Linked DNA regions of Homo sapiens: regions 1, 3 and 4 are each linked to region 2. The links come from fine-mapping of genetic effects on gene expression. A gene starts in region 2. Each other region holds a variant in brackets. All regions are shown on one strand. Distances are between the middles of the regions.

What was found.
Region 1: its variant is fine-mapped to the expression of RNF182 in whole blood (INTERVAL, PIP above 0.99).
Region 3: its variant is fine-mapped to the expression of RNF182 in whole blood (INTERVAL, PIP above 0.99).
Region 4: its variant is fine-mapped to the expression of RNF182 in whole blood (TOPMed, PIP above 0.99).

What each region holds. Positions count from the first base shown.
Region 1 is chr6:13,900,764-13,908,970 of GRCh38, forward strand. No RefSeq gene overlaps it. Among named protein-coding and RNA genes, the nearest start is that of RNF182, 20 kb to the right of the region's middle. The variant T/A (reference allele first, on the strand shown) is at 3,485.
Region 2 is chr6:13,920,861-13,929,067 of GRCh38, forward strand. It overlaps RNF182 (ring finger protein 182), which reads left to right and starts at 4,092. Exons shown (of 3, transcript NM_152737.4): 1 at 4,092-4,163. RefSeq lists an enhancer at 2,987-3,487.
Region 3 is chr6:13,980,797-13,989,003 of GRCh38, forward strand. No RefSeq gene overlaps it. Among named protein-coding and RNA genes, the nearest start is that of RNF182, 60 kb to the left of the region's middle. RefSeq lists a cis regulatory region at 6,487-7,109. The variant T/C (reference allele first, on the strand shown) is at 4,184.
Region 4 is chr6:13,960,888-13,969,094 of GRCh38, forward strand. All of the region lies in intron 1 of RNF182 (ring finger protein 182), which reads left to right. Among named protein-coding and RNA genes, the nearest start is that of RNF182, 40 kb to the left of the region's middle. The variant A/G (reference allele first, on the strand shown) is at 4,309.

The DNA of each region.
Region 1 (8,207 bases), 20 kb before region 2:
TGGTGCAGCAGCTCAAGTGTCTTCAAGGACACTTCAAGGACACTTCCTACTATCGTTCTGCTCTGCTGTTCCAAGCATGTGCTTTTTCATGCTAAGCTATGCTGCTTCATGGTTGCCAGATAATACAACAGCTCCAGACATTGTGACTACATTGAAGGTAACAAACAAGTGGAAGGGGTGGCAAAGTCCTTTCTTCTTCTTCTTTTTTTTTTTTTTTTTTTTTTTGAGATGGAGTCTCGCTCTGTCGCCCAGGCTGGAGTGCAGTGGCGCGATCTCGGCTCACTGCAAGCTCCGCCTCCCGGGTTCACGCCATTCTCCTGCCTCAGCCTCCCGAGTAGCTGGGACTACAGGAGCCCACCACCTCGCCCGGCTAATTTTTTGTATTTTTAGTAGAGACGGGGTTTCACCGTGTTAGCTAGGATGGTCTCAATCATCTGACCTCGTGATCCACCCGCCTCAGCCTCCCAGAGTGCTGGGATTACAGGCGTGAGCCACCGCGCCCGGCCCACAGAGTCCTTTCTTCTTATTAGAGGTCCTTTTTAAGGGAGATAAAATGTGTTTCCTATAATCCCTGTTCCCCCAACGAGCAAACCTTTAGCCAGAACTGGGTTATATAGCTGCTACTCTGGCTGAAAAGTAGGTTGGCAAGGCAAGTTTCTGAGGCTTTTATCCTTTATAATTTGAGGCAGGTAAGGAACAAACGGGCAGAGAATGGTTTTGAACTAGGAAGCCAACAGCGTCTGTTACAGTGGGGATGTTGGATGGAGGGGAAAAAAAGTAATTTTACCTTTCCACTTTTCTGGTGATATGTTTTGATACAATTAAGTGGTTGGAGAAGCAACAATTTCTTTTAAACTGTGATTTAGGCTTATAAGTTTAGAGCTGAAATATTTATTTTTATGATATTTTCAGCATATAGCATAAGCAAATCATATACATTTTTCCCGTAATATAAAAAACACTGACAACAATGTCTCATTTGTTTGCTTCCTGGTGTTTAATTATACATATAAAAGTCAACTTCCAGGCAGGGTGCAAATCAGAAAATCTAGCCAGCCCGTGAGCTTCAGGCCTGACTTCCTTTCTCCTTCTCTTAAGTGCTGTCCAGATCTGAACAACTCCTAGAGAGAAGAGGCAATGCTGAGTTCAGGCTTCTTCCAGGAATAATCGAATACACTTGGAGGTGGCCATGCTCATGAGGGCTGCATATTTTGGGAGAAGTGTTTTCCTCATTGCAAGAACGGGGATAAGACAGTCAAGTAACATATTTTGAGTGCCAGTCCCATGGACCCTTATTCCAAGATAGGAAAAAAAAAAAGAAGAAGAAGAAGAAGAAAAAGAGATCTGTTATTCCTTAGTAAAAACTCACTATCTTGGGATTGTATCTATTTCCCAGGAGGCATTAGAAATCTGTAGTAGAGGCCGGGTGCGGTGGCTCATGCCTGTAATCCCAGCACTTTGGGAGGCTGAGGCGGGTGGATCACGAAGTCAGGAGATCGAGACCATCCTGGCTAACACGGTGAAACCCCGTCTCTACTAAAAATACAAAAAAATTAGCCGGGCGTTGTGGCGGGCACCTGTAGTCCCAGCTACTCAGGAGGCTGAGGCAGGAGAATGGCGTGAACCCGAGAGGTGGAGCTTGCAGTGAGCCAAGATTGCGCCACTGCACTCCAGCCTGGGCGACAGAGCAAAAGTCCGTCTCAAAAAAAAAATAAATCTGTAGTAGAGGGTGGGTGCAGTGGCTCATGTCTGTAATCCCAGCACTTTGGGAGGCTGAGGTGGGAGGATCACTTGAGCTTAGGAGTTCAAGACCAGCCTGGGCAACATGGCAAAACACCATCTCTACAAAAAATAGAAAAAATTAGCCAGGCGCAGTGGTGTACGCCAGTAGCCCCAGCTACATGGGAGGCTGAGGTGGGAGGATTGATGGAGCTCAGGAGGTTGAGGCTGCAGTGAACGAAGATCATGCCACTGCACTGCAGCCTGGACGAGAGAGACCTTGTCTCAATAACATAAAATAAAAATAAAAAAGGAAAATCTGCTGCAGAAATGCTCTGGACTGTGGTACCTGACAAATTGGGACCTCTGACAGTGTCCGGTTTCCTCCTCCAGCCCCAGCCTAACCCTGTAGGCGGCAGAGATGTTAAAGACACGTGCGAGTCTGAGAAAGTAGACAGCAGAGACATCCCTCGGGAAAGTGAGGATGGGACCTGGTGGGGGAAGAAACGAGAGAGAGGCAGAAGACATTTGTGCGCATCAGTTTGGGAGAAGTTGACCACAATCTCTTTTTCCCCCTGCTCTATTGCCTTGGGAAACTCACAGCTTGCCACCTGTGGGATGAACAGCAGTGTCCGTTCCGTGCTGTGGACATGGGGTAGAGATAACATCAGGGAGACAGTGGAGCTGGCTGATGGGTCCACTAGTGAGCGTTCCTTCCTCTCTTGTTCCCCCTCCACACCCTGAGCAGTAGATGATTACAATCAGGGGGAAATTTATCTTGAAGAGCAATGCCTGGGTTGGAGAACAAAAAGCTTGTCTGAAGGTCAGGATTGTGCTGAAGACGGGGCAGTGAAGAAGGGATGTGTGTGTATGTGTGTGTGTGTGTGTGTAGGAGACAGTGATGAAACAAACTCAGATTATGATTCAGGGGTCTTTCTACCTTGTCCTGGGCCATGTCCTTGCCCTCCTTAAATCTAACAAGAGTGCCATATGCTAGGGCCTCCCACAAGATCCACATTTCTGGGCAACGTGAAGGTGTGAGGAAAATGAGCTGAGGGACATCTGGGGAGCATGGCACAGTGAGAAACAACATGCGAAGCAAGCAGAGAATGAGGGCTCACCAAATGCTTTTGTGCTCATCTGCCACGTTCCAGCCTCCCTTGCAGTTGGTTTGGGGCCACTTGGCTAGTTCTAGCTAATGGGATGTGTGTAGAAGTGAGTTCTCTGTGTTTTATTTTTGTTTTTGCTACTATTTTTGTGACTTGCAGTGAAGAACTTTAAGACAGTGCAGTTGTAATGTGAAGTAGTCTGGGTCACAGTTGCTAGAGAGCAAGGAAAGCCATGCAACTGTGAGTGAGAAATAAAAATTTGTTGTGTGAGCCACTGAAATTTCCAGGATTGCTCATTACTGCAGCATATCTTGCCCGTCCTGTCGTATTGCTGTAGGAACCAGAAATAATCACATAGACCAAGAATTTAAAATAAGCACAAAAAGAACTTCAAAGAAGTGATTGGATATTTGTGATGATGCAGAGATAAGAAGTTATAAAGGACCACATGCTGGAGATATTGATTATATTAAAAATAATGGTTAAAATCGACCTGAGAGATGGGATACATAGTGGAAAGTGTATACAGTAGTTGAAGAATTGATTAATGAGCTGCAATATCAGATCAAGAAACAACCCCGGAAGGCAACACAGTGTGGACAGAAAATGAGGGGGAAAAGTTAAAACAAAACAAAACGGAAGAGGGGCAATACAGG[T/A]GATTTATGATCATGAACTATGAATTGACTACAAGGAACTTTACAAAAAATGGAGAAAAGAGAAAGTAAACACAGAACTGGCCTCATGAGATCTATGTTCTGGCCCTGACTCTGGTGCTAGCTTGCTGTGTATCTTGGGCAAATCATTCAGCCCTCTGAAGCTTCATGTCCTTAACCTACAAACTCCTAAAGAGTAAGAGTGGTTTGGTAGAAAGAGTTAGATGGCCTGGGACTGAATCTTTTTTTTTTTTTTGGCAGGGTCTCACTGTTGCCCGGGCTGGAGTGCTGTGGCGTGATCATGGCTTGTGGCTCACCAGTCTCAATCTCCTCAGGCTCAGGTGATCAGCCTCCTGGGTAGCTGGGACTACAGGTGTATGCCACCTTGCTCAGCTAATTTTTTTTTTTTTTTTTTTTTTTTTTTAGAGATGAGGTCTTGAACTCCTGGGCTTAAGAAATCCACCCACCTCAGCCTCCCAAAGTGATCACAGGCATGAGCCACCTCTCCTGGCCCTGGGAATAAATCTTAACTTTGTCACTACCTTGGTCTACTTCTGACTCTCTTAGAATATTAATTTCTTTTATGTCAACTAAAGGTAATATACCTATCTAGTATGTTCCTGGCACACAGCAGATACCTCACTATACTTCCCATTTCCTTCATTTTAGGAAAATTCTAAGACTAAAATTAAGATTCTTGTTCAACACAGTACCCTCACAGGTGAAGACACTGAAAAAATAGAGAAGTAAATAACTGGCACAAAGCATATTCACCAAGGAGATGTCTGCCTCGTGACTGGTATTCAATTCTCTTGATGTGGAAATTGTTGATCCCCCCAACAATCACTTCTTGCTGTCTTGTGAAGCTAAAGCTTAGTCATAAGAAGAATCTATCTTCTTTTGTGGAAATCTTATTTCTTATAAATTATTCAGTCTCTCATTCAGCCTAATGAAGTAGTTGAATTTCACAGAAACCGAGTGAGAGGTGAGTGGTTGCTCCAGAACAGCAGAAAAGCTAGTGGCAGTGGCTTGGAACACACCTTTCCTCAACACGAAGCCAAGGGTCAAATGAAAGAAAAAATGTGAATACATTTATATGTCTGGCCAGTGATTAAAAAAATGTTGCTCTTTTTAATATCTCATCAACATCAATGATTACATTCTTTTCTGGTGCAAATGTAGTAAGTGGTTAATTTGAAAGTATAAAAATGTGTAAGGAAGAAAAATAACCAAGAGTGATACCATTTAAACGATATTACTTAGCGCTGGTATATTTCTTTCTATTTTCTTTTCCATTAAGATATTTACCAAGCACATTTGAATGTATAATTTTATATTTTGCCATTTATCCTTAACATTATAACAGAGGCACACAAGGCGTTTTGCATCTTGTTTTTTTTCCATTTATTGTGATATCTTTGACATCTTGTCACATTGGCATATGTAGACTTACCTCATTCTTTTTAATAGCTGTATGGTATGAACATAACACAGTTTTTTTAATGAACACAATGTTATTTCATAGTCTTCTTTACCATTGAGATATTTACCAAGCATATTTAAATATTTAATTTTATATTTTTCCATTTATCCTTGACATTATAAGCATTTCATGTTATTTCATAGTCACAATATTATCACAATGTTGAATGGCTGTATAATATTTTATTGCAAATGGCAGTTTAACTCTTCTATTAATAATTTGGTTTGCTTCCAACTTTTTGCATTATATCGGTAATGTAACAAATATCTTCATGAGTAAAGTTTTTTTGTATTAAAGTTTACTGGGCTAAAGAATATAAACATTTGTAATGCTTGTGACACACAGTACTTCTCCAAAAGGATCATATTCAGTTTACATATAAAGTGTCATTTTAAACTTTCAGTTTAATTATTCTAATTTTAAATTTATTTATTATACTTATTTATATTTAAAACAAAATAAAACAAGCATTTCTTAAATTACAGATCATTGTCAACATTTTACATGGTGCCGAGATGTATAAAGTTTAAAGTGAGGCTGGGCGCAGTGGCTCATGCCTGTAATCCCAGCACTTTGGGAGGCTGAGGCAGCCGGATCATTTGAGGTGAGGAGTTCGAGACCAGCCTGACCACATGGTGAAACCCTGTCTCTACTAAAAATACAAAAATTAGCTGGGTGTGGTGATGGGCGCCTGTAATCTCAGCTACTCAGGAAGCTGAGGCAGGAGAATTGCTTAAACCAGGGAGGCGGAGGTGGCAGTGAGCCGAGAACGCTCCACTGCACTCCAGCCTGGGTGACAGAGTAAGACTCTGTCTCAAAAAATAAAAAATAAAGTGAAATTATCCCATAATGTTATTTCCCAATGTAATTACTGTTTATAGTTTATTGTATATTCTTCCAAAATTTTTGATATGCATATACTGACATTTATTGCAGTCATTCTCTGTATTAAAAACACGCATGGCGTTTTGCATCTTGTTTTTTTTTCCATTTATTGTGATATCTTTGACATCTTGTCACACTGGCATATGTAGATTTACCTCATTCTTTTTAATAGCTGTATGGTATGAACATAACACAATTTTTTTTATCCCATCTTTGATGGACAGTTGGGCTTGTTCCAAGTTTTTTCCTGTTACAGACAATACTGCAATGAGAGTTCATGTATATATGGTTTAATGAGCATTTACTGCTGTGAAAATGTGACTTTGGAAATTGTTGGCAAGATGATTCTCTCAGTGTGCTGAAACATACAATATTGAAACATCATTTAAAATTTTAAATTTGAATTGAGTCATTGTCATTAAAACCAGGTTAAAATCACAGTGATCTTTTCCTCTTATATAGGAATGAATCCTCTTGCTCCAGATGGAACATAAAGCTCCTTAAATTGAAATTCATTGCACGGGGGCTCTGATGGCCCTTAACAGATGGAAGAACAATCTCATTTGGGTGGTTATGTAATTCAGTGATTATCATGGAACCCTTCAGATACCATCAGACAGAAGGTGGACAGAGTGAGGCTCTGCGGCAAAGGCAGGTGCCATGGCTATAGATTCACTATACTTGTTTCTCTGCATTTATTTGCATCAATAAGACCAGAATCAAGATCTGAGCAGTATAACATGATCTGGTCTAATGACCAACTTTGGAATCTCAGAAATCAAACATTGGGATGCCAGTTGGAATTCAACTAGTTTCTAGTTAAACAACCTTGAGAGGGTCGTTCCATCTCTCTGAAAGCCTTATTTGTACAAGTATGCTAGACAATGCCTCTAGAAGGAGGTTATGATATTAATATTCATTCAATAGATATTAGTTGAGGATTATGTGGCAAGAACTTTTCTGGGTTCTAGAAATACAAGTGTCAATAACATAGATGAGAATCTATTTTTATTTTTCTCAAAGGTGACATTGTTACCTGCCTTAACTGAAAGTAATCAACTGATCTGCTTGGATTTAACCAACTAAGTTTAGCTTTTATGCATTGCATTTTCTTGGTAATGCAGGCTTGCACCAAGGCAGACTATTAGCCAAATCGAAAGATCCTGTTTGAGCTTATCTATTCAACAAAGTACTATTTCTCCTGCCTTATATTATGGCTAAATTTAGAACTCATCATTTCAACACACACTGAAACAAACCAACCTACCTTCCTTCCTTCCTTCCTTCCTTCCTTCCTTCCTTCCTTCCTTCCTTCCTTCCTTCCCTCCTTCCTTCCTTCCTTCCCTCCCTCCCTTCCTCCCCTCCTCCCTCCCTTCCTCATTCCCTTCCTCCCTCCCTTCCTACCTTCCTCCTGCAACAATGCCCAGAACAAGCATCAAGAGCAGCAACTGGCACATAGTAGTACAAAATAAATTTGATCGACTAGATTTCTACAAATATTTATTGTCTAAATTTCATGCAATAGAATGGCTGTGGGGTATACAAAGATAAATAAAATATAATTTCTACTTTCTAAGATCTCATACCTAGTTAAGAGATAGTTATAACAACCAGAAATATGCTGAATGTTTTAAGAATTATGTGCATAGGTCATCTACCTCCATATCTCCAAGTTAAGTTGCCATTTTCTCTTTTCATTGTTCTATTCGACCTACCCTAGACTTTTATCTACATTTGTCTAAAATTGGCACACCAGATAAATTAGGTTATCTAATTTATCTAAAATTGGCAGACCAGATAAATCAAACAACTTTGTGTGTGTGTGTGTTTTGGTGAATCAGAGATTACATTTTGTATCCTTTTCAAGAGAGTGTTTGTAGGCAGCATTGGTAAATGTTTTATACTTGTTTGCAAAGCTGGTATAAATATTTCAGGACACAATTGAGCTTTTCTCATTAAAGCCCATTTTTCTGTCTCTGTATGCAGAAGTTTCTAGCTGTGGAGAGAAAGTACTATTTAAAATAATTGTGAAGATCCTAATTCTATGGCAGCTGTGACAAATGGACCTTTTCTGCTCTATTAGGTTTTGATGAGCTTATTTTTAGTTAAAACAGTAACTTTTGTTACTAAAAAACTCTTAATTTGATCTCTATTTTCAAAATTTGCTCCCACTTAAAGTCTATACTGAGCTTGAAATCAGGATCCATTTATTTTTCAAACCAGTAGCACAATCTGCATCACAGTTCTCAGTCAGATTTGATATTTATAGTAGGGTTTCTAGATACCCTAAAGCTTCCGTCTGATATTTCTGCAAATTAGGAAAAACAGTGTGAATAAACAACAAGCTACTTTCTGTAG
Region 2 (8,207 bases):
TCCAGCTCTTAAATAATTTTAAGATATTTCTTAGGATAGTTGCTTTTCCTTTTAGTGTTTGATTGTGTCAAGAAGTAAAGGTTAAGAAATGTTATTTTCCCCTTTATTGAAGCCGTAGGGTGTAGTGGTTAGTAGAGTAGTAATTCTGCTACTAAATAACTGTGTGACCTTGGACACAGTGTGCAATAAATGCCAGTTATGATTATGACGTATAATTGAGGAAAAAATAAGGATTTGAATAGACAAATTTCAAGTTAGGGAATAGGAAAATTTTTATACAAATGCTTTAGTAGGGATGTATTATTTACTTTAAATATTAGAAATTTGACTACAATAAATTGACTTTAAACCACTTGATAACATTTGCTGCATTTTGTTAAACCAAAAAAATTTAATATTTATCAAAATGAAATTATTATAGGTGCTGATCTTGTTATTGAAATTTCTGGTTTATTTTACTAACTTGAATCAAAATATCTCTTTAATTTTGATAACTTTATAGTCAGTTCAAGGGTAAAAAGAATGAACTTTTGATGACTCAGTTACAGTTCCAATCAGACCATTTAAAGGAAAATGAGAGATTTATCTCTATATATAGATGAAAGATTTATATATACATATATAGACTAACTTGAATTGAAGGTTAGTAGAGTAAGTGAGAGAGCTGGCCAGGCACAGTGGCTCACGCCTGTAATCCCAGCACTTTGGGAGGCCGAGGTGGGCAGATCATGAGGTCAGGAGATTGAGACCATCCTGGCTAACATGGTGAAATCCCATTTCTACTAAAAATACAAAAAATTAGCCGGACGTGGTGGTGGGCGCCTGTAGTCCCAGCTACTCGGGAGGCTGAGGCAGGAGAATGGCGTGAACTTGGGAGGAGGAGCTTGCAGTGAGTGGAGATTGTGCCACTGCACTCCAGCCTGGGCAACAGAGTGAGACTCCGTCTCAAAAAAAAAAAAAAAGTGAGAGAACCAACAAAGTATAATAATAAAAGTAATAATAGTTAACATTTATTCAGCATTGTAGACAATCAAGCATCTAATTTTTACAACTCAAGGAGGTAAGTATTATTATAATCCCTATTTTATAGGTAAGGAAACTGAGGAACAGATGTATTAAATTGCTTGCTGAGGTCATGTAGTTGATAAACAGAGCTGAGATTCAGGTCCAGGTAATCTGACTTTAGTGTCTGTGCTAAAATCTTTCTAAAATATAAAAGCATAAGCTAATGCTTGCATATAATAGGATTCTAATAAGTTGAAATTATTTAACAGAAATTGCCATACTGTGGCATCTTTATGAGTTGGGGAGCATTAATAAGGTAATTACATTTTAACTAAAAGTTAAGAAGAATAGCTAACTTTAGATTTCTTAATGATATTTTGCTATAAACACTAATTCTAAAACAGAGCTGTCCAAAATGTCACATATATAATTTATAATTTTCTAATAATCATGTTAAAAAAGTGGAAAGGAACAAAAGTTAATGATTTTAATAACATCTTTTATTTAACTCAATAAATTCAAAATATATTTTAACATGTAACCAATATAAACATTATTAATAAGATATTATTTTTTTAAAGTTATTGTTCCAAGTCTTTGAAATCTGGTGTGTATTTTGCACTTACTGAACATACCAATTCAGTAGCTAATTCATATGTGGCTAGCAGTTACTGAATTAGACTGTGCAGCTCTAGATCTTTTTAGGAAAGCAAATTCATTATTTTAACCTCATTTCAAAAATGGTGAGAATAAGAAAGACTAGTCATGTATCCACACATTAATTTTTAAGCTTTAGTATCTTCAGTTTCAGTTTAGCTAAACAGACTAAAAGCTGCCACTTAACCTATTCAAATGATATCCCCTGGTAAGTAAGGTGGCACATTTTAAGATGGTTTCCTGACAAGTCTTTTAATTTTCTCCAAGAGGCAGAATGGAAGCAGACCTTAAGATAAAGCTAAACCTCTTTTGGAAAAATGAATGTCTGGAAGAATGTCTCACAGAATAACGCAGGACCAGGTCACTAAGCAATGCTCTAAGTGGGGACACAACGTGGACTTTTCCAAGCCTTCAGCTGAGGGCAGGGATGGCCAAGTCAATGGTCCCTCCCTGTTCTGTATTCAGTTTTTGATCAGGCAGTAATGTGCATGCAGGTCAACAAACATTTATTAAAGCTTTTTGTTTTTGCTTCTTCATTGATAAATTACTAATAAATGCTCATTTGAAAAAGCCAAACAAACCAAATATGTGTACTAAATTGTACATCGTAAGAGGTAACTGTCCCTTCAATTTTTTTTGTAGTTAACAGGTTACCACTTCTAGCAATTAGGTAGGCATTCTTATAGACCTTTATCCCTATGTTTTTGTTCTGTTCCTATATATCCAGTTTTTTTGTACAGAATGGGATCACCCACACATACGGTTCTGAGCCCCCCTTTTCCATTTAATAAGAAATCAATATCTATGAATTTTATATATTTTATTCTTATTAATGGATGCATAGTATTACATGGTATGAAGTGCCACATTATTTAACCATATCACTATTGATGGGCATATAAGTTGTTTCAAACATTTACTATTACAAAACTTCTGCAATGCATATCCTTTTATATCTATCATTACACATTTGTGTGTTTCTGTATGACAGATCTCTAGAATTGAGATAGCTGGGAGAAATGTATGTGCATTTTGAATTCTGGCAGGTATTGCCAAATGCTTAATGGCCTGCCAAAAAGACCTTGTCTTTTGACTTCATCTGGAATATTATTGACTTCATTCAGAATATTCCCATTACAAGAAAGTGGCCAGTCTCTCCGAGGAACAAACTGTTTTCCTTTTCCACCATGAAATAGATCTTATCTTTTCATTAGTTAATATAGGTGTACCTTCAAATGGCAATAACATTGTTCTGCTTTGTGGCTTCTCAAGTAGTAAACCCAGAAAACATCAGCTACCGTGGATTTTATTATAAATCATTGACATTCCTTTGGTGATTCACAAATGCCAAAAAATAAATGTCATGTTCCCCAGGGTTTGAAGAAAGACACTGTAGCTTTTGGATTCAGCAACGGATCTTTCAAGAAAACAGTATGGAGGGATGACTCACTCCCCCCATGGAGGCTGCCCTCTAGTTCGTCCTTTAGAGGAAGCATGACCAAGGGTCTGCTGGTACTTTTCTCTCCCTCTCTAAGAATTTCCTCAGGAGAGGAAAAAGTTAGCTTTCTTTTCTCTGCTCCTGAGTGCCATGGCCTGCAGTACGTGACCAGTCCTTGGCACAGAGTCACTCAGGGCTCATGGTAGATGCTTAGCGGTCACAGCCAGTAGCTGCGCAGTGTGGCAGCAGCTGAGATCCATACTGCAGCCTGAAAGTTGTGTTTCAGCTTCTGAGGTTACAAGTGTATCCAGTGTTTACATCAGAGATAAAGCCCCCTTTCCCCTCTCTCCTACGGGAGCCCTCAACAAGACAGATACACGGGTTGGGTGGAGTGAGACCACATCCAGCAGAGGCAAAGCTTGCTAAAAGAGAGAGGAGGAGGAGGGGGAGAGGGAGGAGGCGGCACGGCGTCCCTTGGCAGCTCCGTGCATGCTGCGGCAGTTGCAACAGGAGAACCGAGTACCAGTTGCTCAACACTTTATCACTTTGCATTGCTCTTTCTCCTCCCTTAAGTGAATTTCCATTTTGAGGGTACAGCTCCACAGGAGAAAGGTGTGGTGGTGGTAGTGGTGGAGGGTGTCTGTGGGGGGGATGGTGGTGCGACGGGAGTTGGAATGTCCAGTGTGGGGAAGCAAAGGAGTGCCTACTAGGATGCGAATACCACTTGGCCCTGGGCTCGCTCCGCTTTAGCCTTCCCCTCTCGCTGGGGAGAAACAGGCGGTTTGTGAGGGAGACTGAGAGAGGGGCGTGTTTGTGGTGGTGGCGGCCCATCGGGGGTCCTTGTCCTCTCCGAATACCCGGACTGCTGAGGGGAAGGGCCGGGGGGGCCCCGGCGGTTGCCATGGTGACGCAGGGTCGGCGGCTCAGCGCCGTAGAGACAAAGCCGCCCGCCCGCCAGCCCGCTAGCTCCTCGCGCGAGCTCCTCCTCCACGGGAACCTCCCTCCCCTCCCAGGCGCCGCCGCAGCCGGAGCGGCTCCCGGGCCCTGGGCCGCCGCCGGCCAGGTAAGGCGATCGCGCCCGCGGCCGGGGAGGGGTCGGCGGGACGCCGGGCCTCCCCAACGCTGGGGCAGCAGCCAGCCCCGCAGTCCTGGACGGCGCCGGGCCGCCCAAGCGCGCCGAGGAGAGGGGGCGGCAAACTTCGGGCCGAGCGGCGCCGGGGCCCGCGCGCGGAGTCTCCCTCCGGGCACCACGGGGGCCGCCGTCCTGGCACCAACTTGAGGGGCTGTGCGGCGGAGGGCGGCTGCGGAGCGCCCGCGCGGGCTGCACCTGCTCAGGGAGCTGCCCCTCTGTTGTTGTTGTTATTTTCCTTCTTGGCGTGCCATCGAGGCTTTTGGGGGAAAAAAAGGTATGAAAGTATTTACCTTTGGACTTTCATGTTTCATGGCATTCTCTTTGAGGAGGGGTTGGGAGGGTAGTAAGAGGGACAAGCGAAAGATTTTTACGAATCTCTGAAAAGTGAGCCCATTTTTATGCCTGTGGCTGAAGCATTTTGAGGAGGCTTCTGAAGTTCGTTTGGATATTGAATCGAAAGACCTTTTTTTCTTTGGAAGGTGCAGTTGCACCTATAACTGGATGGTAAGGGTAGCCCGGCTTTCCCCGACTAGCAAGACCAGAATGTAGAGCAGTACCGATACTTTGTCAAGGAGATACTTGGCACCGAGGTCATTGCTTTTGTTTCTAGAAGGTATTGTGTTCATGCTGTAAGGAACTGGAAAGTGCCTTTTGTTTTTATGTGTAGGGAGGCAATCCAAAGCACCTCTGGAGGCAGGTAGCTGGGCGGTGTTTGCATCGGTGTTTATGAGTGGGATGATGAGGACCACGATGCGGTTGCCACTGGGGCACTGGATAGGTTATAGGTACCTTTCTCAGTGGCCCCAACCCTTGCAATCATTTCGTGATAGTTTGTTGCAGACGCGAAGCACAGATTTAAATTGTGACTGTGAAGACTTTTTTTTTTGGTACTTAGACATCATCTTACATGTAGTAATATGAAAGAAAACAGATACATTTTCAGAAATACAGTTGATCAATTCAGAAGGAAATTGTATATATGTTAATAAGATTTGTTTTAAATCATATTTAAACAATATGAGATGTCATATTGATAACTGGAAAATAATCTAACATATAAAATTGTATATCCAACTTAGTAAAATAATGTATAAGTTGGAATAGGTCATTTAAAGAACTATATGGAATGCAAGAAATTATATTTTTGCTAGAGAGTAATTAATGAAAACAGTACCACTGATCATTTTGAATTGCAGTTAAGTTGATTGGAATTCTGCATATTACAGCTACTTGAGGTGTCAGGCAAAGAGTGATTATTTAATATTCCTCTTCCCTCTTTTGGGATTTCAACACCTGTTAGCCTGCTGATTACTAGGTTTCTCAGTCTGTTCATATTTGCCAGCAACTTCAAGTAATGCCACTTCATTAGAAGATTGTATTGGAAACTAAAGGATTGAAGTTGCAATTAACAGTTTGCAGGTTATTTCACAATTGGGCTTGTTTTTAAACTGAATTTTACCTGTGGAAGATTCACAGATGCTCTGCTAAATACTCTTTCATGACGGTAATAAAATCGTACATTGATTAAAACGAAGTAGATCTGTTTTGAGAAGATAAACGGGAGAGAAAAGTATTTTCTCACTTAAGCATGAACAGCAAATAGGATATTGAAGCCTAGGCACATTATATAGACAGAGAATGTAGTTTTATGTTTTGTACTAAAAATAAATTATTTTGTGTGTTTGTGTGTGTGTGTGTGTTTTTTTTTTTTTCCTGAGGGACCAACAGAACAGCTTTATTCAGATCTTTGTTAGCAAAACCAGTATTCAAGTTCAAGGACTTGGTCCGTGCTTTCTGCCAGATGAAACCCACACTGTGAGTTCTAGCCTAAACATTTATGTTGTGGCCCTTAATCTGAGTGCTGAAGAACGGAGATATCCATGGTGAATTTAGCACAGTAAGGACCGGTGCTTTGCCTTTGCTGCTAGCTCACACGGGCACAACATTCAATATAGTTTGGCTTCTTCAGAGCTGCATCATTTTCTGCCAAAAAATAAAGTCGGTATACAGAAATCAACAATCATGTATTGCATGCACTGCTTGGTTGTAGTGGCTTATTAATAAGAGCTCCGAAGCATGAAATGAAGCTTGTGTCAGTGCAGTGGAAAACAATAATCTGGCATGTTTATATGTGTTACTAGTGTTCTGAGGTATGTGCATAACCAGATAATGAAAGAAAAAATACTATGATATCTGCAATATGTCCTTAGAAAATGCAAACAGCAATTGTGTTTTCTGTCCATGGTTTAGCCACCTGGTGGAAGCAGGCAACAGCATTGCATATCCCCAGGTGTAAAATACTAGTCATCACTCTTGCTGATTCACGGGAGTAGGAGTCTTTTCCTGCATTTTAGCTTACGGGTTTTAATTTTATGACGTAAAATTGGTCCTAATTTTTGGTATAAGCTGTAAAATATGGCCTGATAATTGTCACCATAGCTGTATTCTACCTGAAAGAATTCTGTAATTCAGTTTATGAAGCATATCCAAAGACAAAAAAAAGCCACAAATGTTCCTGTTTAAGTTAGGATTAACATTATGTTTGTGCCATTGAAAGTCAGTTGTTTGTAACCATATAAGCCTGCATAGGCAGCCTAAATAAAGCCACTGAAGCCTTTATTGACTGTTTCTGGGTCAACATTCTCTTGCAATTTCTAGTTGCACTGTGATAACATGATTACTGGTTGGTAATTTAGCATCTAGTGCAATGTGTTGTAGCATTTATAAAAGCACATTTGTGAAGGATGGTAGTTTTTAAATGATTTCTTCATTACCAAAACACTTAGATTTAGATTTGTGGCTGGGGAGAATAGTGTGGCCCTGAGACCTCAAGACAAAATGCTGTAAATATCAGGTATTGTTAACTGACCTGCTGTGCACAGTGGGTATTTGTCAGAACTACTGTGCTGAGAAAAGGCACAGGAGACACATGGTCATGGTGATAGGTTGTGGTGTTTAGTGACATGGATTATTAATAGTGATTGATAGAAGCTGAAAAACTTTTGTGGACGTGTGTTTCATTTTTCATGTTTTCAATTAAAATGGAGATAAGATGTCTTAAGCTGTTTGGTAAGCCACAAGTGCTTGGGGAAAATGTATACTTTTATACAGTATTGTACATAATTTAAGTGATATAAACATAGTTCAAGATAAACGATTGTTTTCCTGATGTGCCAATTTTTTGTAGCAGTTATGGAGTATGGTTTTGGACATCAGTCATCAAATGTTTATCAAATGCTTCCTTCTATATATTCTATGTTGCTTGATGAAAGTCAACCAACCTCTTATAGTTGGGGACTTACTTGTTTCTCAGCTATTAGGATTATTTATTTTATATGTAATTCTTAATGTATGATACCCAAATACTCTCCTTTGTTTTCAGCCTTCCTTTTTTCAAAAGTTACCAGTTAATTTTGTAATGTTTTTTTAAAAAGTTTTATATTTCCAGAGCTTATTTTAAAAATGATTTGGTTAATTTGTAATTTGATCAGAAAATAGTGGGCATAAAAAACACATTATAATCTTTATATTTTGCATTTTGAGTATTTATAGACATGGTTTGTTGGATAGTAGAATCTGGGATCCTGTTAGGTGATTGCTTATTTCCATACATGTTTTGAACTTGATCCTTGCTTCTGTATCTTATAATCGGTTGAAGTGAAAACCAAAGAACTAGGAGGTAGAGGCAGCAGTGAGTTAAAAGGTGTTAAAGAGATCAATACATACTGAGAGTCTGCTGGCATAGTGGCCAAAGGTGGTGCAGGGGTGGGGGTGCGGTGGTGGTGGTTGGGAGGGCAGGGTCAGGGAGTCTGGGGCAGGAAGCTGGGGGACAGTGATGGCTCTAATAATCTCTTTTAACACTTTATGGTCCAGACTCTAAAGCAGATTACCTGAGGTCTTTACCTAGTGACCATTTCCAGAGGCTGGCTAGTCCTACAAAAGAGTTGCTGGTGCTGGTCCTGGTCACTTGCCTCC
Region 3 (8,207 bases), 60 kb after region 2:
GAGCTCTGGAGTAGCTCATATTTATAGTTCATGAGATACAGATGAGATGCAAATGAGTTAGAGAGAGTATCATGCAAGCAAACTACGATTTTATGTTTCTGCATTTTTTGAGACTTGCTCTTTTTGCCTACTCTTCTTGGTAAAAAATACCTCAACTTGATTCCTTGGAAATGCCATAGAAACACCACATATTATTCCAGAGCTTTACTCAAAACCTGTGAGAGTCTTGGTATGGTCCCTGAAAGAGTTTAACCATTTGCTCTCCAAGTTAGAGTTTTGTGTGCTTTCTACATCTTTGCCCTTTTATTAAATTATTCTCTCTACTTCAATACCCTTTATGAATTTTTACTCCTTTGTGAGGAACTGTAGGCTTAGTATTGGGTCTTTCCTTACACATTTATTTTTGTGTAAGAGAGATTTAAAAAATGTGAATGTTGAAATTTGAGTAAATTCCAAATGAGTCCTGGAGGTAATACAGATTCAACCCAGTTCCTGATATCATTTCATACTGTGGTAGACTCCAAATCTGCATATACTCAGTGTGCAGACATTTATGGTTCTGACATGAAGGTGCTTTAAGCTTATGAATAAAAGAATCAAAAATTAAATTACATCCTGAACACTGTGTATACTAAGTAGGGATCTGTGCTAATGTATTTTTAAAAGTGTTAAACCTTGATTTAATTAAAACATCAATTAACTGAAAAGTCACAAGCATTTTAATTAAGAGTTTATTAGATTTGTAACATATTAACACTTTAAATTGAGAAGGTTGGAATTTCACAGGAGAAAGAATATGCTCTGACAGTAGGTGGTTTTAGATCTTGTTTTTCGCATGAAGTGTAAGGAAAGTTTCTTTGTACATTCACGTTCACATTACATTTACATTCTTATTACCCCAGATAAGAGGTCTGGCCTGAAGACATAGCTTTGGGAGTCTTTAGCAATTCTTCTTTTTTATAGTCTATTTTTAAGATTTTTAAATTGAAATATAATTGTATATATGTAGTACATAGTGGTGTTTTGATACATATAATGTATAGTGATCAGATCAGGCTAATTAGCATAGCCATCTCACACATTTTTCATTTTTTTGTTGGGAATATTCACTATCCTCCTTCTAGCTATTTAAAACTATATAATCTATTGTTAACTAGGGTCATCCTACAGTGTTATGGAATACTAGAACTTACTCCTCCCATCGAGCTGTAATTCTGTATCCTTGAACAAATTTCTCCCCATCTCTCCCTTCCCTCTACGCTGCCTGCCTCTGGTATTCTGTTCTGCTTTTTACTTCTATGAGAACAACTTTTTTTTTTTAGCTTCCATAGATGAGTGAGAACACCGGTATTTAACTTTCTGTTCCTGGCTTACTTCACTTAACATAAGGTCCTCCAGTTCCATCCATGTTGCCACAAATGATAGGATTTCATTATGTTTTATGTCTGAATAGGATTCCATTGTGTACTATACCACATTTTCTTTATCCATTCATCTGTTCTTAGATACCTAGGTTGACTCCATATCTTGGCTATTGTGAACAGTGCTGCAGTAAACATGGGGTGCAGATGTCTCTTCCATACACTGATTTCTTTCCTTTGGATAAATGCTCTGGATTGCTGGATCACAGTCTTATTAGTTTTTTGAGGATCCTATTCTCCACAGCGACTGTACTATTCTCCCTAGTGACTGTACTAGTTTATATTTCCACCAACAGTGTATTTCAATAGCAGCTGAAGGTGAGGGGGTAGAGAAATGTTGAGGCCCAGAGAGGACTGAGAGGCTGAGCTCTCCAGGCTATAACTCTGAATGCTCAGTAGGGCAGTGGGCACAGCCACTGTCATGGTGCAACCAGAGGGGGAGAATGGACACCAGAGGCAGTGGTCATGGGAGCAAGGATGAGGGGGGAGTTAGGATGATTGGGTGAACACAACAGAAGTAGATTGGATGGTGAAAGAAAGAAAGGTTCTTCAAGCTTATTTCACGAAGATTTTCAAAGATACAGAAAAGTTGAGAAAATAGAATAATTATCACCTGTACACTTATCACTTAGAGTCAATTGTTAACCTTTTGCAATATTTGTTTTCTATCACCCTTAAAAATAAAGAACTTCCCTCTAATTTGACTAAAACATTATTATATTATCTCAGACAATTAAAAATACCTTTCTAATATCATTTTGTATACATTTTTCTCAAATTTTTCTATTCTCAAATATGTTTTGTAACTTAAAAAAAAAAACTCAACCAACAAAAATAAAAAAAAAATACCGGGATCTGGTCTAGTCTCACACATTGCCTTTGATTTTTTTATATCTTTATTCTCTCCTTCTGGAATAGTCACCCCACCTTGTTTTCCCCATAACCTTGACTTCTTGAAGAAAGCAAACCAGTTACCTTGTATGATGTCCCGCATTCTGTATTTGGTGGTGTTTAATTTCTGTTACCTGTATTTTCTGTAAGCCAAAAATCTATAAGCTTGATTGGACTCAGATTTTGGGCAACAAGTTGTCTTAGTCACCTTTGTATCACATCACATTTGGAGGCATAAAATGAAAGGTTGCCCTCCCATTCAAAACACTCAGTTTGATCACTCAGTTAAGGTGGTCTCTACTTCCCCTGTGCAACTGTAAAAAAAATCCATGGGGTGACACTTTGGATCCATGCAAATATTCTCTTCCCTAACAATTTTCACCTGATGGTTTTAACAGCCAATAATGATCCTTGCACGAATCAACTACAGGTACTTCGTTTTCCAAAGATTTGGAGTGTTATTCTAGTGAGAACTAACTCCCGCCTCGACTGTCAGCTGTGTAATGGAGGAAATAGAACCATAGGAGCCAACCCTTGTCTAAAGCTTCAGTAAATCTTAAGGTTTGAATGCATCTTTATAGTTACCCAATTATTGAAGGCATAAACTGGAATGAAAATCACAATCTTTTATCTTCCAATGTACTTTCTATGATCTCAGAGGAGAAAGAAGCCCAAATCATCTGTGAAGTACCTTTTTTTAACCTTTAAATAATTCACTGGACTCTAGCCTTGAACTGTCCACTCTCAACCAATCTCTTGTTGAACATTTCATAGGCAGCTCTCTGTTCATCTGCTGAATCATTACTTCCTTGAAGACTATGTACTCCTTATTCTCAATCTTTGTCAAATCTTAAATTCTTTGCTTTAGACAGCTCTCTTTCCTTGTTATTCTAGTAATTTAGTCTGTTTTTCAGAGTGATCCTGTTTGCCCAGAATAACCTCTTGCCTATTGTCTGACCATTTCATCTCTTCTTAAAATCCCTGCCAGGCAGTGGGTTCCTCCACAGCATTCACTGTGTGTTCCCAGTCTTGATACTCTGCTGGAACTTTTCTGTATATCCACTCCCTGTTGTTAGATCTTTTTCATTCTTCATAGCAGCAAGTAGAATGCATGCAGGGCATCTATCAAGTCATACAATAAATTCTGTAGTCTTTAGATAATGTTTTCAAACTTTTAGTAAGCATTATTTTTAGTACATATATGCTGTGTAATTCTAAACTTAACACTTGCCCCTAATTCTTGCCAATACAGTCCCAATTTGGTTGAGCCAATCACGAATTATGTCTTGGTTAACAGATGTATACTGGACTAAAGTCAGATAATTCTGAGTTGGCTTAATGGTAAATCCTTCTCAGTAGTTCCGAATAAGTTAAACTTTTTATTGTTCCGTGCCTACAAATAAGAGAGCTCATCTTTTAACATAGCATTTCAAAAGAGTTAAAGTGACACTTTAGCTATGAAATGTTATTTTTAATGCCACATAACACCATTAGTCAATAAATGAACATCTGTTTTTGCTATGTGCTGAGCCAAAACCTCCTGCGCTCTTTGTTTCTTCCCCCATTTCCTCTGATTTCTTTAATGTCACTTAGGACATTAGTGACCTAACGCAGTCACTGCCACCTTCCTCCACACCTCCTGTACACACACACGCTTTATATTTCAGGAAACAAAGCTCTGTGAAAGAGAACCACATTAGTCTTCCACTAGCTGGGGATTATCCATTTAAGTATTATTTTAAAATATTTTTGTGATGACTAACAACTACATTTATGACTTCTTGTAGAACAATGGATTCGGCTGCTTGTCTCAGAGGTAATTGTGCCCTCTTTTGCAATATTCACCATAGCTGAGCAATGGAGATTTTTCC[T/C]AGCTAAATGATGGAATGGTTGTTGACAGTGATTCCATTTGACGGTTTTTTGTGTTTTTTTTGGTTTTGTTTTGTTTTTGTTTAGACGGAATCTCGCTCTGTCGCCAGGCTGGAGGGCAGTGACGCAATCTAGGCTCACTGAAACCTCCGCCTCCTGGGTTCAAGTGATTCTCTTGCCTCAGCCTCCCTTGTAGCTGGGACTACAGGCATGTGCCACCACACCCAGCTAATTTTTGTATTTTTAGTAGAGACAGGGTTTCACCATGTTGGCCAGGATAATCTCAATCCCCTGACCTCGTGATCTGCCCGCCTTGGCTTCCCAAAGTGCTGGGACTACAGGCCTGAGCCACCACGCCTGACCTGATGTGATTTTTTTTTTTTCCAAGAGATTCCAGTTTGAACTGTGTATTTCTATGGTTAAATTTACTGTCATTACAAATTTTATTGTTGGTTAGAATTTTAAAAATTATGAAATTATTTCTAGCCTATAATTTGACCAACTCTTAATCACCAGTTAAGAGGGAATAAACAATATGCCCTACTTTTGTGGGATTTTTCTGTTGCCAGAGTGGAGAACGGAGAAGTGGTCATTGGGAGACCAAAGAATATTAAATTCTGTCCTTGAAACGGGAGGAAGGTGGCACTGCTAATTACCAGACTTTTGATATAGTTTGGATACTTACTTGTCCCCCGAAACCTCATGTTAAATATTTGATCCCAATGTTGGAGGTGGAGCCTAACAAAAGGTTTGAGTCATGGGGTGGATCCCTCATGAATGGTTTGGTGCCGTTCTTCTCCTGCTAGAGGGTGAGTTCTTGCTCTGTTAGGTTCCCCAAGAGCTGGTTGTTAAAGGAGCCTGGCACTTCCCCCTTCTCCCTTGCTTCCTCTCTGGCCATGTGATCTCTGCACACACAGGCTCCCCTTTGCCTTCTGTCATGAGTGGAAGCAGCCTGAGGACTTCACCAGAAGCTGAGCAGACACTGGTGCCATTCTTCTTGTACAGCCTACAGAACTGTGAGCCAAACATATCTCTTTTCCTTATACATTACCCAGCCTCGGGTATTCCTTTATAGTAATGCAAAAATGGATGAAGACAACCCTCTTTCCTACTTACAGCTTTATATCCCAAATGGGAACCTTGCCAAAGTTTTTGATACGAAACCTAAAGATTCATTATTTTAACTCAAATATTGACTACTTATGATGCATAACATATAAATATTTCTTGATTCTTTGACAAGATATCCATACATGTCACAACTCATTGGAAGGATATAAAGACAAGTATAATGTTTCCAAGGTGTATCTGATTAAAGCAGTAGTTTCAAAATATATGACATAAAACATGTCTCAGTAGCTGGCCCAGGAAAGGAGGACTTCCTGGCTGTGCCTGCTCAGAAGCTGTGCCTATGCATCTTTCTTTTAGAGATTCTCATGAGTGTTGCTGCAGGAAAGGGCCTGAGAAGTCATTTGGTTAAAGAAACTTATTTAGCAGTCCAATCCAATGTTTCCCCCAAACTATGTAACCATGGAAATCTTTCTCAAAACATCTATTAATATTTTGTGGAATTAGTGTTCTGTGGAGCATATTTTGTGAACTCTGCAATACAGAATTGATAAAAGTCATAATATAGAATCTGAAGGCAGACAGAAATCACGAAACCAGTGCATGAATCTAAAAGGCAGTCAAAAAGTCACAATTAGGCAGTGCATCCCAGGAGAGTGGCAAAGTGCAAAGGGGCAAAGGAACAGACCACCAGGAGCATGGATAGTGAAGGAGTATTGATCCCTACACTTGTTCCCAACATAAAACAATTTACAATGAACAATTCTTGTCAGACTTTCATGGAATGACATATTCAAGCTTTGTCTCTAGCCCCTACTAAATATCTAAATATATGTAGAAGGAGATTTCAAGTGGAATAATTAAGTGCTAGTTATTTTTTGAGCCTATGAAACTTCCACAGCTAATTCTCAGAATAGACCTAATATTCCAACTGTTGGAAAACATGTACCAGATTTTTAAAGTTTTGGTCATTGAACGTTAGGGCTGGAAAGATTTTATATATCAGAGGCCAACTGCCTTGTTTTAAATTATCAAACCAACACGTAGACACTGCCTTGTTTTAAATGATTAAACCCACACTTATAAGCTGCCTTGTTTTAAATGATGAAACCAACACTTAGAAATGATCCCTCTCACAAAGGCGAGAGATAGGTTCTAATAAGGACCACTGAAGTCCCAGTCTGCTTTTTACCCTACACTCCCCTGTCTCTTTGTCAATAGCCGTCAATTTATTTTTCCCACATGGGTTACTGAATTTTATGGACAACAAAATATGCAGTGGGACAGAGATTATTTTATGCTTAGAAGCTATGTCTAGCTACAAAAATATGTAATGAGGATATGAAATAATCACCTACATTCTTCAACATCCCATTTTGTTCTCGAGAAGTAAGGTCAAAGCATGTGAGAAGTGAAAACTTATTCATAAGCAGACACAGAGCTTTATCATATACAAGCAGACGGCTGTAGTCATTAGGGAAAGGAAGAGCGTTGAGGTGAGAGGTCAGTACTTGAGTGACAAATGATCAGAATCAGGAGGCTTTCACATAATCTTTCCTTACCCTGTGCAGCACCCTAATCTAGACCCTTACCTGGATAGTTGCAATCATCTTTGAGGCAATTTTACTGCATCGTGTAAAGAGCACCCTATGACATTCTGACCTCCTCGGTACCTGGGATCATGATCAGATCCAGGAAGATGATGTTTGCATGCCCTGCTCCCTCAGTGCATGGACCTCCACTCTGGTGATGGGTCCCGACGCCGTCCTCTCACTCACTCGCTCTCATCACCCATGCATGCTCTCGAGTGGCTTGCGTTTTGGCTTTTACAACTTCACTGAAACTGCTTTCTCAGAGGGACTGATAGCTCTTCAAAAAAGTAACTTCTATTTTTATTAAAATTGTACATCTTCATGGTATTAAAAGTTACATAGTATTAAGCACTTTTAATGAAAAACAGGTGCCTCTGAACCATCCTTCCCTGTCCTCCTAAGGGCAACCACTTTCTACTCTTAAATATTTCTTTCTCTTTACTTCCATATTTCTGAAAATTGTACTTATATGATAATTTCTTAATTTTTTTTCAATTTTAGCCATTATCTATCGATATTCTATTGTGGAAAATGACTTAATTTTCTTATGACCTTCCCTACACACACACACACACACACACACACACACACTCTTTCACTTCTTACATGTTCCCAATATAATTATATCACAATTCTTGGTAAAATCAACATTTGGTGTTTAGATTGTTATGACTATCTAATATCACTCATAGCTGAGGTTCTAGTGTATTGTGAATACATTTTCTTTCATATACAACTTTTTGTTTTCCCTGGAATTAATTGCCTCATTTTAGAATTTGCTTAGTTTTCTTTGTATGTATAACTGAAGCATCCCCAGAGTCTATGATTATTGAAGAAACCTTTCCTTTCTGTCAAACGTGATAGATAATGTGCCAGTTTACTCTCATGGCGACAGCCCTCCTGGAGCCCTTCACTCTCTTGATTTAATCCAGATTAGTTACTTTCTGCACAGCTGCCAGCCACGCATCCTGAGAATTCTCTGATCCCCTTTTCTTGAGTCCCTTGCCGTCTTTTGCTAGGTTTATTCATTTTTTGACAAGAAAGCACATTCTCTACTAGCTTGCTGGGAGAAAAAGATGCATGGAGGTAAAAATGCTAAGACCCTGCATGTCTGAAAATATCTTTCCGTCTACAGCTATACCACTCTGAACGTGCCTGATCTCATCTCAAAATGTCTTTCCTCTAGCCCTAAGCTTGATCGATGATTTGGTTAGAAATCATCTTCCCTCATTGCTTTGGTGCCTTTCAATCCCCACTTTGCTGCAGAGGAGTTATTTAGCATTCTAATCTCTGATTCTTCGTATGTCTTTTTTTTTTTTTTTCCATTTTGAAAACCATTAGGGTCTTCTTTTTTCTCCACAGTGTT
Region 4 (8,207 bases), 40 kb after region 2:
TTAATAGGAAAGAAATTAGTCTAATGGAAGAAGATTCAGTCATTCTTAATAATCTAATTTTCAGGCCATATTCTTATTAATCATGATCTTAAATTATATCTTTGTTTGCATCTTCCAAATAAAGAGTAAGGTACTAAGCAAAAACCTAGACTTATGAGCTTTATATATTATTTGTTGGCGTTCCATATAGATAATATAAACAAAAGAGAAATAATGACATTTCCCTCTCAGCTTATCAGGTAGCGGAAGTTATTACAACATTGGTAAATTGTGCTTTACTTGCTGTACTTACTATCTGCTCTATCTATAGACAGAAAACCTGTATACCTTCTGATACTGTGTTCAATGCATATTCTGTCTACTACCAATTTAGAATGCTGAAGTACCATATCAATGGATCCATTATTTCTAAATTTCTAGTCGCATCCATATAGTGCTTATGTATGTAAAGTATTTACACCTAAATGATTCCATTGAATCCTCACAACCACTTTGTGAGGCAGGTGTTGTCTTTTAGTCCAAGATCACAGTGTCAGAGCCAGGTCCCAAATCTCGGTCTCCTGACTCTAGATGCTATGTGCTTCCATTGTAGACTGCCTGCAAGGGATGGTCATACTCCTGGCTGCACTTCCAGAGTCTTGAAGAAGAAAGCAGATGTGGATACCTAAATATAGGGTGCGGAGTACCTGGTTTTTTTCTCTCTTATTCCTGAACATTTATTGGTTTAAAACTGCTGGCAAACAGCACAGCATAAATCACAACTCCATATATAAAAATAGTGGCCTCTCTTCCAAAATTAATAACTTAGATTGCTAGGTTATTAACTTGGCTGTATCCTAATAAATAGATTATGACTCTCCATCAAATTAAATTGCATGTTCTTGGAGGAGGGGGGAGGTAAGAGTTTTAATTGTTGAGGGAGGCTTTCTGGAATTGCTCCTTATGCTGCCAAACAACCATTAGGGGTTATGGGTATTGTGGGTTAAATTCTTCTAGAGTCAGCTGATGGTCCTTCAAGAATGAGTACTTGGCATTTGTTGAGCCTATTCTTTTTAGGATTTTTGAGTTGGAGACTTTTATTATAGTGAGAAGGATTTTTTTGAATGGCATTTTAATGAAAGGCATAGTTTTTAATGAAAGGCATAGTAAAACCCTTAATTCTGAGACCATCGTCTCTACAAAGTTCAACTATTGTTAATGCTCACTAAGGGATAACTGATAATTGGGACTGAGGCCAACATATTATTGTTAGTAATTATTAACAGTAATGAGAGTCTTTTAAGCTCTAACTAGAATCCAGCTTCTGAATCTCTAGGTGGAAAAACTGGACTTTCTTGGAGGTAGATGCCACATGTGTGGTTTAAGCTTAATTTGAGACTCAAGCTCCATAAATAATGAGGTTAGGAACATCGGGTTTTGTGAATGAGCAATTGGGTGTCAGAGAGATGGCAAGCATGTGTACTTTATCAATAGCTGAGCGTAAAAACCAATGTTCTGCCTTGATAGTCACAAAGAAAAATGATGCTACAAGTGCTAGAATCTCTCATATGTTTTTGAAGATAGAGTTATTAGTCAAAGAATTTAAGACATCATAGAAACTGATAATCAAGAAGTGAAAGTGTTTGAAGAGTGATTCTCCATTTTGCACAAAATAAATTGAACATAGAAGCAGGTATTTAGCACCATTTATAAAAACAGAAACCATAGTTAATGAAAATGACAATACCTTAACTTCTATCAGTTTTCTTGTTACAGAGCCATTTAAAATATATTGTCTCATCATCTAGAAAGCAGTGTTTACAACATTTATTTTCCAGGATGGGAGGAATATTTTGGAAATGAGAGTTGAAATTTGACAGTTGTCTTTTCATAAGGGGAAAAATATAATCTCTCCTGTTGATGCCGCATTAAAATGGTTGATGGATTCTATAAGAATGATTCAGGCTACATGAAACTGTATATGAAATATTTTGAAGAAACTCAACTTACCCTAAGACCTATACAATTAATTCATATGGACAGTGGAGTAATACATAGCATAGAGCCCTGGATAGATAATAGGATCACAGTGACAGCTCTGTTTTTTGTTTTGTTTTTTTGAGCTCTACTTATTTTGACTTTTTTTGTCCTGACTTCTTATGTAATCTTAGGAAAGATACTTCAATGGATGTTCATATGCCTATTAAGTGGGAATTATAATTTCCCCTTACTGTAGTAGAGCTTATGCAGTGTTTCTAAAATTTTTGAGCTTTTTAAAAAGACTTGAATTAATAGAAGTTATCATAATACAAATTATTAAAGTTTATGCATGGAAGAATACATAGAAACTGTATTTTGACTGACAGAACTTGCAAGATGTATGGATTGGACAGCTTCAAAGTTCATAAAAGAGTCTTCTAGGTAGGCATGATACTCATTGATAAATGAGGGAAATAATTTCTTTGGGCAGAGATTGGCTTTGGATTAATTTGGAAAGAAATAGCATGCTATTTTGCTTATCTATTGTTACAAAAGCACCTCAAAACTAGTGGCTGGAAACAACAGCCATTTTATTGGTTCATGAGTCTGTGGCTCAGCATTTTCTACTGGGCTCAGTGGGGCACATTCTTCAGCTGTTCTTTCATGGTGCTACTCATTCAAACAGGTGTTGTCCCTGGTGGTTAGTTGAGGCTGGATGGTCTCTAATGGTCTCACATGACTAGAGTTGGTGCTGGCTTTTGTCTGGGCCTTTCTCTCTATGGTTTCTCATCTTCAGAGAGGCTAGCCTGGGCTTCTTTGATGGTGGTCTCAGAATTCCAAGAGAGCAAGAGCAGAAGCTTCAAGACACCCTGAGGTCAGAAATTTGCTTCACACTCTTAATGTTGGTCAAAGCAAGTCACAAGGCCAAGATTTAAGGGGTGGGGAAAAACAGATTCCTCTACTTGTTGATCAGATGAAAAGAAGATCACATTGTAGAAAGTATTTGTACAGGTCTGTGGAGAATTATTGCAGCCATATTTGCAGACAAGTTGCCACACATGATAGGGGCTAGGGCAAAGAGTATTTAGGGGAGATGGTTTAGTAATAAATTAAAAAATTTGAAATTGAAGGGTAATATCATGAAAAAGTGGGGAAGAAGACCCAAAAACAGTTCAAGATCCAAACAGCAAAGACTCAAGACAATCTCAGTTAAGAAAAACACGAATTTTTTAAAATGTAAAAAAAAAAAAAGAATCATTATCTAACTAGTATATAGAAATACAGGTCTTTGAATTAAAAGGTAGAACTTGAAAGGCATTATTTAGGAAAGATAGCCAAAGGCAAAGGAAAATGATTCTCATACCCTTGAGTGTCCAGTTTATGGATTCTTAGAATGAGACAGTTTGATATAGAGGAAGTAAAAAATAATAATATGCAAAAAGGAGAATTCTAAAAAGTGAATTTCAGAAACAGTTAACTTAGGGATGAGTATCAGTTTGGTACATATCTTTATGTAATAGCCGCTGAACATGCTTAGTATTGCCAATGTTCTGCCCAAATTAAACTTTTATCACAAATTTCCATTTTTCCATCTAGGTAAATATTTGGGAAAAACTCCAGGAATTATAGTTGGCAAGGATTCTTGAAAGATAGCAAGCTAAAGTGGCTTGCTATCTTGCTCTCTCAATTCTACTCTATCTGCCTTTCCTGATCCCAACGACTCCTGGAGCCAGCAGACCCCTGAGTGCAAGTGAAACCCCAAGCTTTGTGAAAGCTGAGGGTGGGGAGTGGGGAGCAGATGGGGGATTCCTTCCTAGGCTTGGCTGGTACCGAGGGCTGGCATCCATTTGATGAGTCCCACCAGAAGATCAGGATGCACTGGATACTGTGATGAACTTGACCTACAGAGGGTGGGGACTCCTGGGAGGAAAACTGAAACTCACCCTCACCCCATAGTGTGTGTGTTCCACAAGAGACCAAGGAGAAAAATCCATAGTTGGGTGCGTCCTTTGGAGCAGGAGACCTTGGAAGGGTCCTGGCAGCCCACCTGCTGTCACACTGCTAGATCACAGGAGAAGAGACCATTGTGTTTCACCCTACTCATAGAACTTCAGTTCCATGGGTCCTTCAACAATCAGACCTGAACCCCAGTGATATAACAAAGAAAAATATTGGCACTGTAGCCAAAGGGAAGGCAGTCTATGAGAACAGACAGAACTCACGCTGAATGTGATGGAGCGGCAGCCAGAGACAGATGACAACCTGACAAAAAATAGAAAGAGCACATAAGGAGATGCAGATGCAGCACAAGAAGACTTTCTAGAGATGAAATGCATGATTTCCCCATCA[A/G]ACATTTTAGTAAATGAACTGAAGGTGATAATGATCATTCTTGGGGCTTGATTTGGTAGCCTAGTTGGTCAGCTAGAAGAATCTGAAAGTACAGAACAAAAATATAAAGGAATGGAAACCACAAAAGAAAATAGATCCAGGAAATATAACATGTGAGTAACAGGAAAGCCAGAAAGAGAAAAAGGAACAGATGGAGGAAAGGCAATAATTAAGTAAATATAAGAAACAAATTTTTTGAGCTTAAAAATCAGGACTTGAGTCTGTAAATTCAAATAGCTTATTAAGTTCCAGGCAAAATTTATGAAAAAAGACACTCTGGATTTATTGGAAAAGTTCTTGAACTATATATTAAGAATAAGAGGCAAAATCTTAGAAGCTTCTAGACAGAGCAAATTACTTACCATGAAGAAGTATCACACTAGCAGCAGATTTCTCATCTGTGACACAGAAAACTAGAAATAGTAATTTCTGCAGGCCATGGAGATGTTACCAAAATACCAAGGGTTTGGTCTAGGCCCTACTTGCTCACCACACAGAAAGCCAATCACGAGACGATGAGTATTGCCAAGGAAGAAGGCTTTAATTGGGTGCTGGGGCTGAGGAGATGGGAGATCCTTCTCAAATCCATCTCTCTGACAGACTAAAACCGAGGGCTTATATAGCAGGGCAGAAATGTAACAATGTATAAGAAAACAGGAACTAGAGAGGGGCAAGGAAGCAATCATGATCAGTGAGGGGCCCCTCAAGGATCTGGTGTGGTGATCTGGTGAGTTTCAGTTCTTTGATACTTTTTTTTGAGTGGACTGGAAGTACTCTCCTGAGGACGGAGCTCAGATAAAACAAATACAAGTTTTAAGCTTTAAGACAAGAAAGGGCAATCTATGTTTATACAAAAGAATAGTCTATAGGACTACTGGGTTGGTTTCAGAGAGAAAAAAGACAGCAGCCAGAAAATCCCATACATTTCCCTGTCAGGAGGAAATTTATTACTACATAAGAATTTAGAAATATCATCACCTATTTTCTGACAAAGATACTCAATAATACAAAGAAAAAGTAACTGAACAAAAAGTTAACCAGAAACACAGACCTTGAGATACAGGAAGATGACAGGAGGGAAATATTTGGAATTGAATCAAATAAATCAAGTGAGGAGGAAAGAATGAGTTAATATATAACAGCCTTTACATTAAAGGTGAATGAACTTGGAAAATTCACAAATTTTTAGAATTCATTAGATGTTTTAATTGGAAAATTGTCAGACTGAGTTAAAAACCAAAACCCAGGTCAGGCATGGTGGCTCATACCTGTAATCCCAGCACTTTGGGAGGCCAAGGTAGGTGGATCGCTTGAGTACAGGAGTTTGAGACCAGCCTGGGCAACATGGCAAAACCCCGTCTCTACTAAAAATACAAAAATTAGCTAAGCGTGGTGGCGCACACCTGTAATCTCAGCTACTTGGGAGGCTGAGGCGGGAAGATTGCTTGACCCCGCGGGGTGGAGGTTACAGTGAGCTGAGATCATGCCACTGCACTCCAGCCTGGGCGACAGATCAGGAACCTGTCCCCACCCCCCCACCCCCCCACCAAAAAAAAGTAAAACCCAGTAGTATGCTGTTTTGTGTGTGTGCGCGTGCGTGTGTGTGTGTGTGTGTGTGTTTTCAAACATGCTCTCTCTGTTGCCCAGGCTGGAGTGCAGTGGTGCAATCATAGCTTACTGCAGCCTCGGCCTCCTGGACTCAAGTGAGCCTCCCATCTCAGCCTTCTGAGTAGCTGGGACCACAGGCGTGCACCACCACGCCTGGCTAATTTTTGTATGTTTTTGTAGAGACAGAGCTTTGCCTTGTTTCCTAGGCTGGTCTCCAACTCTTGGGCTCAAGTGATCCACCTATCTTGGCCTCCCAAAGTGCTGGGATTACAGGCTGTGTACCACATCTCTGGCAGCTGTTTATAAGAAACATTCGAGATAAAGTAATTGAAGATGGAGTTGAAAGGATGCACATACATCCCAGGCAAATGCGGAGTCAATAGAACAAGTAATATAAGCTTTAGATAAGGTATAAAGGTTGATATTTAAGTTAAAGGCATAAATAGGATAAGGAAAGACATTATATAATGACAAAAAGAGGCAGAGTTTATGAAGAAAATAAAGTTGTATATGTAAGCTAACATAGCCACTAACTCTGTAAAACAAAACTGTTAGAAATGCAAATATAGTTATAGTGAGACACTTAAATAAACCTCTCTCACTTGTTTTGACCTGTGATAACCTTGCACATACCTTGATGATTCAGAAATTGAATAAATTAAAAAGTTAGGTTTAATAGGTATTCTAGAACCACACAGAATATTTCTTTCTAGACTACTTAGAAAAATATACTTTACCACAAAGAGCACCATAATAAATTAAAAGGAAAAGATTTTCTTATAGATTTTGTTCTCTGATCATAATCCCGTACTATTAGAAATTACATATGGCAATAAAAAATAAATTTTATTTAGAAATTTAAGAAAAGTATATAACCTTTTTAAAATTTATTAATTTTTTTTTAAAAAATAGAGATGGAGTCTAATATTGCCCTGGCTAGTCTCAAACTCCTAAGGCTCAAGTGATTCTCTACCCTCAGCCTCCTGGAATTACAGGCGTGAGCCACCATGCCTGGCCCTGTATTACCTTTATATCAAAGGAGAAATCAAAGGTCAAATCACAAGCCATCTAGAAATCAATAAAAGGTACACAATCTATTCCACAAGCTATGGGATAGAGTGAAAGCTGTAGCCAGTGGAAACACTATAGTCTTTAGCTATTTTCAGTATTTAAGCATAAAGACAAAGTGTACTCTTAGTATGAATTGGGAAAAAAATCATAACAAACAAAAATAAATTAGAGGGAATAATAAAGATAAAAGCTGAAATTAATGAAATTAAAAGTAACAGAAAGGATAAATACATATATTAGTTGGTCTTTGAAAAGCACAGTAAAATAGTTTGATTAGGTAATTAATAAGGAGTAAAACAATTTAGAAGACTATAAGTGAGAAAAGAAACAATCAGGGGCAGAGGTGATGCAAAGACGATAACAGAATTTGCGGAACTCTACAGCAATGAATTTGAAAACCCAGAAGAAATGGATTTTTTCTTTGTCAAATATAAATGTCTAAATTTAACTGAGGAAGAAATGAACATTTGAATAGGACAGTAACCCTAAAAGAGATGGAAAAATGATTAAAGATCTACTACTGCAAATGACAATGGAATCATATGAAATTACAGCTGAGTTTTATGTAACTTTTAAAGAACACATAATTTTATCAGTATTTAAACTGTTCCAGAAGATGAATAGCTCGTGTTTCACTTATAAAATAAGCATACAGTTAATACCAAAACCTAACAGCACAAAAAAGTCTAGAGACCAATTTAATTTTCAGTACAGATGTAAAGTTTCTCTAAGATTTCATTTGGGGTGGTATTCAGGCTGATACTGGTGGAGGAGAAAAGAACCAAATAAAAAAGAATGCACACACACAAAGGCCACTAATAAATAAATAAATATGTCTGATGACCTTTGTGTATTTATATATGTAAATGTGTTTATGTGTACATGTGCATGCATGTGTGCACGTGTGCAAATGAAATCTTAGAGAATGCCTATTGCCTGTGAGTTTTGTTGAATTATTTATTTATATAAATTTCTGTAATACTAAGTAGGAACCTAGATCTAAAAACACAATAAATTCTCAACGTCAAGTACAGCATGGTAACTGTATTAGGGCACTTTGGGTTGTAAGTAACAGAAATCCATCCAGAAAACTAGCATAAGCAAAAAAAGGAATTTATTGGCTCACAGAAACCTTCATACATTATTGACTTCAGAAACTCAGTTCAGGTCTCATCAGGCTT